Regions from separate parts of the Homo sapiens genome. Here region 1 is linked to region 2. Evidence: fine-mapped expression QTL. A gene starts in region 2. The other region holds a variant in brackets. All regions are shown on one strand. Distances are from middle to middle.

What was found. PIP is the estimated chance that this variant, and not a neighbour inherited with it, causes the effect.
Region 1: its variant is fine-mapped to the expression of TNFAIP8 in whole blood (TOPMed, PIP 0.97).

The regions. Positions count from the first base shown.
Region 1 is chr5:119,390,806-119,396,036 of GRCh38, reverse strand. It overlaps TNFAIP8 (TNF alpha induced protein 8), which reads right to left. Exons shown (of 2, transcript NM_014350.4): 2 at 1-3,221. The coding sequence ends at 2,656. Among named protein-coding and RNA genes, the nearest start is that of TNFAIP8, 37 kb to the right of the region's middle. RefSeq lists an enhancer at 951-1,000 and a silencer at 4,814-4,971. The variant G/A (reference allele first, on the strand shown) is at 2,446.
Region 2 is chr5:119,352,961-119,358,191 of GRCh38, reverse strand. TNFAIP8 (TNF alpha induced protein 8) reads right to left here and starts at 2,173. Exons shown (of 2, transcript NM_014350.4): 1 at 2,071-2,173. The coding sequence starts at 2,101. LOC102723444 (a long non-coding RNA gene) reads left to right here and starts at 2,419. Exons shown (of 5, transcript XR_007058912.1): 1 at 2,419-2,494; 2 at 3,826-3,937. RefSeq lists silencers at 1,487-1,546, 1,344-1,638, 2,267-2,426 and an enhancer at 3,077-3,216.

The DNA.
Region 1 (5,231 bases), 38 kb before region 2:
AATTAAATGAGTTAATGTGCCCGACACATAATACAAACTACTCTGCGTTAGTTGTCCATTAGTATTATCATCCACTTATCATATCCACTCATAATTTTTGCAGAGAAGCCACCAGCACAAAATAAAATCAATTACAACACAATTTTTTTCAAAACGTGAACAGATACTATTTTATAAAAAGGTTCATAGGATCCCCAAATTAGTATTAACTCGGCTCAGATTTATCTACCCTAAGCACGTGGGGATTCTTCCCAGCTCCCACGCTCCTTGCCACCCTAAATGCTCAAGGGGAGTCCTATTGTATTAGAAATGAACTTGCTAATCACGACTTTGGACCTGATCCAAGACATGCTTTTCAGGCACAGCACTGGTAAGGAGATGGGTCCCCTCCAGAAAATGCTGAGAAATGGTAGCAAACAGGATTCCCTCCTTCGGTCTACTCCTCACTGCCTTCCCTCTGTGGGAGATGAAGCATTGCTCCCCCAATCCCATGCACATTTGATTGCTAGCCTGCTGGCACAACCCTATGATCCAGTGTGTCCAGAGAGATCCAGATTTCTCCCTCCGTACGTTTTCTCTCTCTGGTTGGTCCTGTCTATAGCTACAGATGAGCAAGAAGCATCCATGGACTGCCCAGGGCTTTCGTTTCCCATACCTCTGCTGTTTGAGATCTGGAGAACAGAACACATCCAGTCAGTAGCTCACACCCCCCATCACATTCTCAGCCTTCACATGTGAGGAAAACAGCTGGTCAAGGAAGGCTGCTGAATTCCATTTATAAGCCACTTAGCAAGTTATGAAGCTAGAAGGGTCATTTCTGTAGTCACTGTGTTATTGTTACAGCATATACTGATCACCTACTGGCTCTAGGAAGTGAGAATGATACTTTCAGTTCAAATCTTAGTGTCAGGATTTAATATCAAACAGGAAGAAACTCTACACCTTTGCTGCTTGTCTTAGCCAAGCAAATGAGGGTGTCAGAGAAACTGACCACCCTCTCTAGGCTGAAATGGGTTAGAGCAGATCTCAACTTCTGGAATTTTTAGTTGTGGAACCTTTCCTGGTAAACTATTATTTTAATGTCAATATTCTGGGAGGCAGGCAAATTTAAGGCAAGAGAGTACACTAAATCATAGGCACAGTGGCTCACACCTGTAATCCCAACACTTTCGGAGGCCGAGGCAGGCAGATCATTTGAAGTCAGGAGTTCAAGACCAGCCTGGGCAACATGGTGAAACCCCATCTCGACTAAAAATACAAAAATTAGCTGGGTGTGGTGGTGCATGCCTGTAATCCCAGCTACTTGGGAGGCAGAGGCAGGAGAATCACTTGAACCTGGGAGGCAGAGGTTGCAGTGAGCCAAAATCATGCCACTGCATTCTAGCCTAAACAACAGAGCGAGACTCAAAAAAAAAAAAAAAAAAATCATAGACACAGTGACAATGGAAATGTTTATTGCTGGTGGTTGGGTCTGTCATTTCCTAGAGGACATAGCTGGCCAGCAGATTTTCATTTCTTTTTTACAAAATAAACAAATGCCTACTTTATTATTTATACACAGAAAATTATATAGAAACACCACACAAACTGCTTGAAATACAAATATTCTTTGGTTTACTTATCAAAGTAAAAAATAACAAAAATCTTATCAGTTAAATAAAAAAGTGACATTCTTTATCAAGCCTTCTTAAACACTGAAACGCACGCATTTTTATGCTCATGTTCTTTAGCAGTATTTCTCCCCTTTTGCCCCTCATTCCCCTAAATTGTTTCAATGAGTTCATCTGTAGAATGAAGATTGTTACCTTTCTTAATGCTACTTACTTTTTATTATCTCAATATCAAGACCAATCTAGACTTTTTTGTCTCTTACATGTGAAATGGATGTAAAAAATGGAAAATTCACCAGCACTTTTTAAGATAACATAAAAGAAGCCCTAAGCAAGCATTTCAAGGCAATGACACACCATTACATTTCTGAGAAATTTAAGTATCATTGGTACTTAAAAGGAGAACTCAATTCCAGAAGCATATTCTTATACTGGACATTATTCATAATAGCTAATATAGTTCATTTCCACAGTACTGATTTCAGATAAGCCATTTTTTTTTTCCTGAGGGTTGACTACCTCAGACTTAAATCCTGAATGTCGATGACTCAATCTTAACAAAACAGTCAGCTGTAGACATGAAAATTGAATTGTTTCAAAAGGAGCAATGATAGCAAGAGAAAGTTCTTGGCATTTTAAGAAAAGTACATATACATAGCAAGAAATGAAAGTAAATCAAAATACATAGCTTTGTACATGTTAGAAATATCCAATGTGCCACCAACACAACAACTGCCCTATTAAAAAGTCCTCAGGTCTGGAGACATCTGTATTTTTCTTTGTATAACTACATTTGCATTACCCAACCACATATCTCTCCCATGGTCTGTTACCC[G/A]TTAGGAAGCTTTTAACCAGAATTTTTGGCAATATGCTTTTCTTCAAATAAAACAAGCCTTCAAATAAATCATTATGTCTGACAACTGAATTGGGTAAAGTCTTTCTGAAATATGTGTAATCTTTAGAAAATTCTTCTTTTTTCCTTCATAAATCAGCAGTGCTCCATCTTCAAATAAATCATGATCAGTCACAATCTTAACTCATGTGCTCATATGTTCTCTTCATCCAACATTTTGTTGATACCATCACATAGTTTTTGTAAGTGGGGTTTAAAATTCCCAAAAGGATTATACAAGGCAGCCAAAAATTCACAATCTGAAAAATGATCAAACACATTATTAACCCGTCCATGTGACTTGGCAGTGAGGTGGCGCTGAATGATTTGGTGCAGCATCTCTCTGCATTCATTTAACAGCCTGGATAACACATTCCGGTCAAAGGTATAATCCACCTGATGGAAACTGACCACGGTCATAGCAAGCTGATGAACTTTCTTCTTAAATTTCTCCATCAATGCTAGCTCATCTTGATTAAACTGATTATTCCTATAAAGAATGGCCAGCTTGATGACTGTCTTGATGAGGTTCTTGATGATCTTCTCTGCCTCCTTCTTGTTTTGGGTGTACTCCCTGGTCACTCTGTAGAGCTCATCCAGCACCTCACTACTTGTGTCGTCTATTAAGGTGGTGGCGATGGATTTGGACACCATTTTACCCAAGATCTTCTTTTGTGCCTGAACGGCCAGGTTTTTGGAATTAAAGACATCTGTGGCCACTAAAAAAAAAAAAAGAGAGGAAAAGAATTAACAATTAGTAAATATCAGCAAGTGAAGCGAACTAAAAACAGGTATTTGGGAGCACTTTTTTTCCTCATTTTCCCACCATTTGTGGTTTGTCTTACATCTACCGACATTAGTCTCTGTTCAGAAAAGAATTTTTGGCTGGGTGGAGTGGCTCACACCTGTAATCCCAACACTTTGGGAGACTGAGGTGGGCAGACCACTTGAGATCAGGAGTTTGAGACCAGCCCGGCCTACATGGGCGTGGTGGTGGGCACCTATAATCCCAGCTACTCAGGAGGCTGAGGCAGAAGAATCGCTTGAACCCAGGAGGCGGAGGCTGCAGTGAGCTGAGATTGCTCCACTGCACTCCAGCCTGGGTGACACAGCGAGACTCTGTCTCAAAACAAAAAAAAAAATACAAAATCAACTCTATACCTGTCATCTGGGCAACAGCAACCACAAGCGATTTAAAAGAAATTCATTTAAATGGAAGAAGAACAAATGGCAAAGCCATAATATTGAGTAAAATGGCAGATTAAGCAAATCAAAAGGAAAGCCTTGTTTTATAATCCGGTTGCAAAAAGTCAAATTTCCCAAGACATTGGCCAGTGCCTACCAATTTGGCTGTCCTAAGTACCTTGAATTTCAGCCTCCAGAAGTCGAGTGTTGAAAAGAAGTGCTCCTTGGAGAGCTCATTGTCACTTGCTATTTCTGATGAATGGCCATTGTTCACTTTACATTTTTACACATTTTGGGGAAATAACCTTTTCATGAGCTAATGAAATGTGCTACATGAAAAATATACTTTGAAAAAGCTGTTGCTTAGAGTTTACTTTTGGAATTATAACTTCTGACAGATGTTTACAATATACATAATAATGGCTATACATATTAAATATTAAACAGACACTATATGTAATCTTCCCACCTTAGAGCTGGTCAAGTGAAAATGCTCAATAAATGTTTATTCTCCAAACCAAGTTTACTTTTCTTCTACCACAATTTTCCCCACTCCATGCATGTAGCAATCTTTTTTTTTTTTTTTTTTTGAGACGGAGTTTCACTCTTTTTGCCCAGGCTGGAGTGCAATGGCGTGATCTTGGCTCACTGCAACCTCCACCTCCCGGGTTCAAGTGATTCTCACAACTCAGTCTCCAGAGTAGCTGGGATTATAGGCACCCTCCACCATGCCCGGCTAATTGTGTATTTTCAGTAGAGACGGGGTTTCACCATGTTGGCCAGGCTGGTCTCGAACTCCTGGCCTCAGGTGATCTGCCCATCTCAGCCTCCCAAAGTGCTGGGATTACAGGCATGAGCCACCGCACCTGGCCCATTTCTCTCGCTTCTCCTAAGGCTTAAGAACTGCAGTTCTTTGGGTGTCTACTCAATCTCTGAGTCGAGTGGCAACTGTTCTCTCCATATATGCCAGTGTTTAAGCCTAGGCCTGGGTATCAGAAAGCAGTCATTTGGTAATGAAAGATAAAAAGTTTAAAAATACAGATACATACAAATGAGTCAAGGCATCAATGATTATATAAGATTATTTCTAGTTTGGATAGGCTAGCATCATTAGGAAGCAAAAAGGCAGCTGCTTCAAAATCCAGACTGGGAAGACATATAGGAAGAGTGACTCCCTTAATCCAGAACTGCCATGTTGGATTTAAAATTGGGGAAAGGCGGGGTGTGGTGGCTCACACTTGAAATCCCAGCACATTGGCAGGCCCAGGTAGGGAGAGGATCACTTGAGCCCAGGAGTTTGACACCAGCCTGGGCAACATAGCAAAACCCCATTGCAACAAAAAACTACAAAAAAAAAAAAAAAATTAGCCAGGTGTGGTGGCATGCACCTGTAGTCCCAGTTACTAGGGAGTTGGAGGTGGGAGAATAATCTGAGCCTGGGAAGTTGAGGCTGCAGTGAGCAGTGATTGCACTACTGCACTCCAGCCTGGGCAACAAAGTGAGACCCTGTCTCAGAAAAAATTAAAATTAAATAAAATTGAGGA
Region 2 (5,231 bases):
GTTTTCTTGCAATACAGACATTCTTAAGAACTCATGGTGATCTCACACTAAATGGGATACATAAGTTCACCAGGATGAAAAAAAAAAAAAAAGCTACGTATAAGAGGAAAAGGACTAGTAACGATAGAGAAGATAACTGAGTTATTTACACAACATAGCTCGCTTCATCGACATCTGAGTGGTGGTAGCTAACCAGAAGGTTCTAGATTACAGCCAATGAACCAGCCTTGGAGAAAACACACCCAAAACACACAGACACCTATCCTTCATTTCCTGGCAGAAGCTATATGATTCTATCTGATTAATAAAGTGTTCAATCTCCCTCAAGAGTTATTCAGTATCCCACCCTAATTGCTATCAATTTAAAATTCTACTACCTCAGATTATTTTAAAAGAAACATTCTGGGCTTTCTTTAAAAAGCAGAGCGCCATATCATTTGTGGCCGATCTGCAGAATGTAAATGATGACAAGTGGAGGGAAGGTGAGGAACAAGCAGAAGGGGCCCCATTAACCTCTTCATAGGCCAGTTTGCAGGCTGCTTCCAAACTTAAAACCAGAGAGCTGGGCCCTCGAGGAGGGAAGACTGTGGATGTTGCTATGGGAATGTATAATACACACTTTGGGATACTGTTTTTCCACTTTCTCTCCCACTCTCTCTTTCTCAAAAGACAGGGAAAACACACCTGAGAGAAAACGCCAGCTTAAGTGCTACTTGTAATTCACACAGAAGTTCACCCTTGAGTTCTCTCAGCCTGGTTCCTATTTGCCTTCAACTACCTTTGACTTTGAATAAACTGCTGGTATAAAGACATAGAAAAGAAAAGCATCTATCAGCACACAGCTCCATCAGAACACAGGACACGGCAAGAAAGCATTACTCCCCCCATACTCCACATCAAACTCAAAAACAATGCTCCTGGCTGTCATTTTTCATTCATGCCAGCCCCGTATTTCTATTAAACAAACCTCCTTTTTATTGACTATTTCCCTCACACAGCATAATAAGGTAAACGTGAGCCCACAAAGACTACATGGTGAAACACAAAGCTTTCCTCTGGGAGGGGAATCAGTAAAAGGCAGAAGAGGACAAGTTTCAAGGGCTCTTCCTAACTGGTGTCTACCAAATGGAGAAATGATGGGGCTGCTCCTCTGCCAGAACTGCTGTGATTGACTTGAAATTAACCAGCTTTCCAAGAGACTACATGAAAAGAAAGAGTATTTCACAATCTTGAATAGTCTCCTCTCTTACTCTCTAATTTTCCCCAACCACCCTTACTCCCACCCCCCACTTACAAGAGAACTTTTGTATACATAAAGTTTCAAGGAACAAAGCATACAAACACTCACACACAAATAAACTCCCCAAACTAACACCAGCGTATAATTGTGTTTTGGTTGGAGCTTTTCCAGCCCTGTCACCTGTTCTCTGTTAGGAGTAAATGAAACCCTTTGCTTTTGCGAAGTTAGAAACAGACAAACTCTTCTCAGTTTCAAGCTGCACAAGGACCCCCTCATATCTTTCAGCCCCCTCAAACCCCCAACGAAATGAACTCACTGCTGAAAACCCAGCAATGAAAAAAAATTAATCTATTTCTCAAATACAGATTTTCGCTTCCCCTCACTCAGCTTCCCCTTTTAGCCGGAAACATATAGCGTTTCTAATTTCTCAAACCCCTTTTCAAGGGACCCTCCACTCAGGGCTCTTCCAGGGATCCCGCTTTCAGTCTTTCTGATGCAGGCAGGCAGCCCTTTTCCAAGCACATTTTGCATTCTTGGAGTCCAAGTGGGGCTCTTTCGTTTCCAGAGAAAGCTAAAAAGCAGACTTAGTGGGCTGGCTGAACTAGGTCCGACTTTTCCTCCCCTCCCCTCTGAACGGCTGCGGGGGGAGAAGGGAGCCCAAGATGAGACCCGGGCTCCGCTTATCCAGCTCCGACTTGGCTTCGAAGGCGCAGGGCAAGCGGACAAAGTGCCCACCGCTCACTTTAAAACTCCCATCCTCTTCTACCACTGCCTTCCTCCAAATTCCTCCGCAGAACTTGGCCGGCCCCCAGGAGAAACCAGAATCCTACCTTCCTTGGATTCTTCTGCTTCGGAGTGCATAATGTCAGGATAACCAGCTGCAGGGGCGATTACCGCTCACATGTACTCGGACGAGCCGCAAGTTCGCTCTGCAGCGAAATCCGCACACGACGGAAAATAAAAGGAAGAAAGCCACTAAAATCAAAACCTCCCCGGGGCGGGAGAGCGGGTTCTGGTGCAGGGATTTTCAGGGGGAAAGTTCTGCAAGAGTGACGAATCGCGTGTCAGCTGGGCGGCGGGAGTCCGCCCCCGGAGCCGCGCGCTCGGGCCGGCAGCCGGGCGGAGGCGACCTGGCGGGGCTGGCTCGGCCCGGGCGCACGCAGGTGGGGCACAGGCCCAGACGGCAGCCGACTCTCCCGAGACACAGGGCCGAGAAGAACCGTCGGCAAACGCACCAGACGGGCGGAAAAAAAGGTATAAAAAGAAAAAAAAAGTCTCATCTCAGAGCACACTGTAGTTTTACATAAATAGCAAATGCATATAGGGTAGAACCAATGCCTCTGTATTTTTGGATTACATTTTTTGATGCCCATTTGACTTTGTCTTGGAGTCTTGCAACCCAAAAATTACGGATTTTAAAGCGGCTTTGGTATGTTATTTTTGTAGGAAAGTCGCATGGATATCGTCCATGGGGTTGCAAGGACCAGCTTAAGAGAGCACAATTTCACAAGTCCCAGAGCGGGGCCTTTTGAAGAAAGTGGAGCGGCCTCCACCCTTACCTTTGCACAGCAAAAGCAGACGGGGCTGCTTACTCATTCAGTATAGCCCCGGGCGAGCACTGGTACTCCAAGCACAGCCCGGGCACTCATTGCTGCAGTTACTCCAAAGGGCCTTCCTCAGGGGGAGAGCACGGTTCCCTCCCGGCTACCAGCAAAAACTGGGGATGAATTCCTTCAAAATGCCAAAGGGGAGGTTTTCAGGATTTGAAATGCTGATAGAATAAAGAAGCCGGACAGCCTTCACAACAGATCTCAATTCTGCCCCCGGGTCTGGCCCACAGGCCCCTACAAATTGGCTGAGAGGAAGTCCCCTTAGCTCTGTGGAGCCTTGGTTTTCCCTTCTGCAAAGCGGGGACAAGAGCTGCCACTGATAGGCCTGTCTTACGGAGGTATTTTGTAGAACACTTGTTTTATCGCCAGTCTGAGGCAAAAAGTCCTCAAATAACATATCTGAAAGATCCGCTTGGAAATTATGAGAAAAAAATATACTCTTTTGACAAATTTATTTTCCAGTTCGTTTCTTTTTCTTCGTTTCCGATTTTATATAGGCAAAAACCAATAGAAACACTATGGCAAATTTAGTGAAAAGAACGTACAAAAGACATGGATTTAAGGAGTCTGAACTTAAATCCAGTTCTGCCATCTATCATTTGTATGACCTTATGCAAATTAACCTCTCTGAGCCTCCAGTTCCTCATTTGTAAAATGAAGATAAAAATAGTATTATTTACTTCACAGATTTATGTCTGTATTAAATAAGGTAATATAAGCACAAAGGGATTTGAAAACCATAAGGACTACATAGATTATTACCATTGCACCATTAAAAGTAAATTTTTATAAAACATACTCTTGGGTTTTATTTCAGTATTGACTTTGAACAGAAAAGAGTGCTTATGCTATTCACAAGCAGTGAAGGCTATTATAAATATTAATGTAAGAGGTCTAGATATTAAATCACATCCTACTGCTGAGAGATTCTAACCTGCCTAAGATTCTAACATGTTATCTCAATTTCACTGAAAGAGCAGGATGAAGGGAGGAAGATATAGCCAGCCAGAGAAGGGAGAAGAGGAGAAACATCTGGAAAATATCAGTGTTGCAGAGCCTCCCGGAAACTGACCTCGCCACCGAAAGGGTAACAGACTGCACCCTTCCGAAAGTCACAGTTAACTTCATGGTCCCCTCTGCCACACATCCTGAGTCAGGAGCTGCTGATATGTATACCTTGCACTCAGTAATCTCAGACTTATGGGGAGATACACTGAGATGAGGATGATTCTGAACCCAAAGAAATGCTCCCTCACCAGTCACAAGTGGCTTTTCCTGTCCTGCCCAAGTCAACATTCTGCCCCTCTCTCCCTATACCATCTATCCTTGCCCTTCCTCACTGCAACCCAGATGTCCACAGATAGTCCACAAGAGATCTTAAGGGATCTCACCAGGGCCGTGTGCTACACAAGAGAGCTTCCACTGATCTATAATTGGGGTAAAGCAACACCTTTTCAAGGTGATGATTATGCAAATCCAGACAACCCAAATTTCAGGCCCAATCTGCCTACAGCAGAATTACTTTCACTCTCTTCTTTTAGAAAGTACCCTTACAAGAAATATTTATTAAATGTCATTTTGCAAGTCCAACTGGGGACAAACCACATAAGATATGTTAAAATACATGTCCTTTAATGTGCTACTTGTTTTACAACTGCTGAATGAATAGTTCAAGCGCTCCGTCAGCCTTATAATTCATTTTAGATTCATGTTAGCTTCGTTGATCTTTGAACATTCACCATCGGCCTCAGGAAGCCTGGAGAGAAACTTCTTTTGTATTTAAATGCAAGCAAGCAGTCACCTTGGGGAAGAATGCTCTGTTTTAGCTCAAGAGCAATGAATGCTCAGCTTATTTTAAAAGGCTTTATGTGAATAAGTACATTCCTCAGTCTCCCGTATAACCTCAAAGCCATCTGCTCTGGGCAGGCTGCATTGCCCCATACCCCTACCCTGCAACATGGTGACAAAGGGCAGCTGATTCTCTAGGGCTCCCCTTGGCCTTCTGCTGCTCTCAGATATGTACTAGGTCATTTTGATTTTGCTGTGCTTTTATTCAAAAGGGGATAATTTACTTCTTAGCCCCAGTGAATAATGGTCCAGTACATCATAATGATTTGTTATCTCCTGTAGGTGGGACTTGTTGATTCTTGTATGTTTAAGAAACACCCCAAACATCCTTCACATGGCAACATGTATGGAAGTCATACCAACAAACTATTACCGCCCGCCTGATACAAAATTGCAACTAAGTTAGCAACACTTCTCATTTAATAACAAACTGTACTTAAATTTAAATACTATGTTGAACTCCTGCAAGTGTCTAATAATGGAACTCCCACCTTTTGTGTCAAGATGGAAGAATGAAAATGGTAGCTAAGATT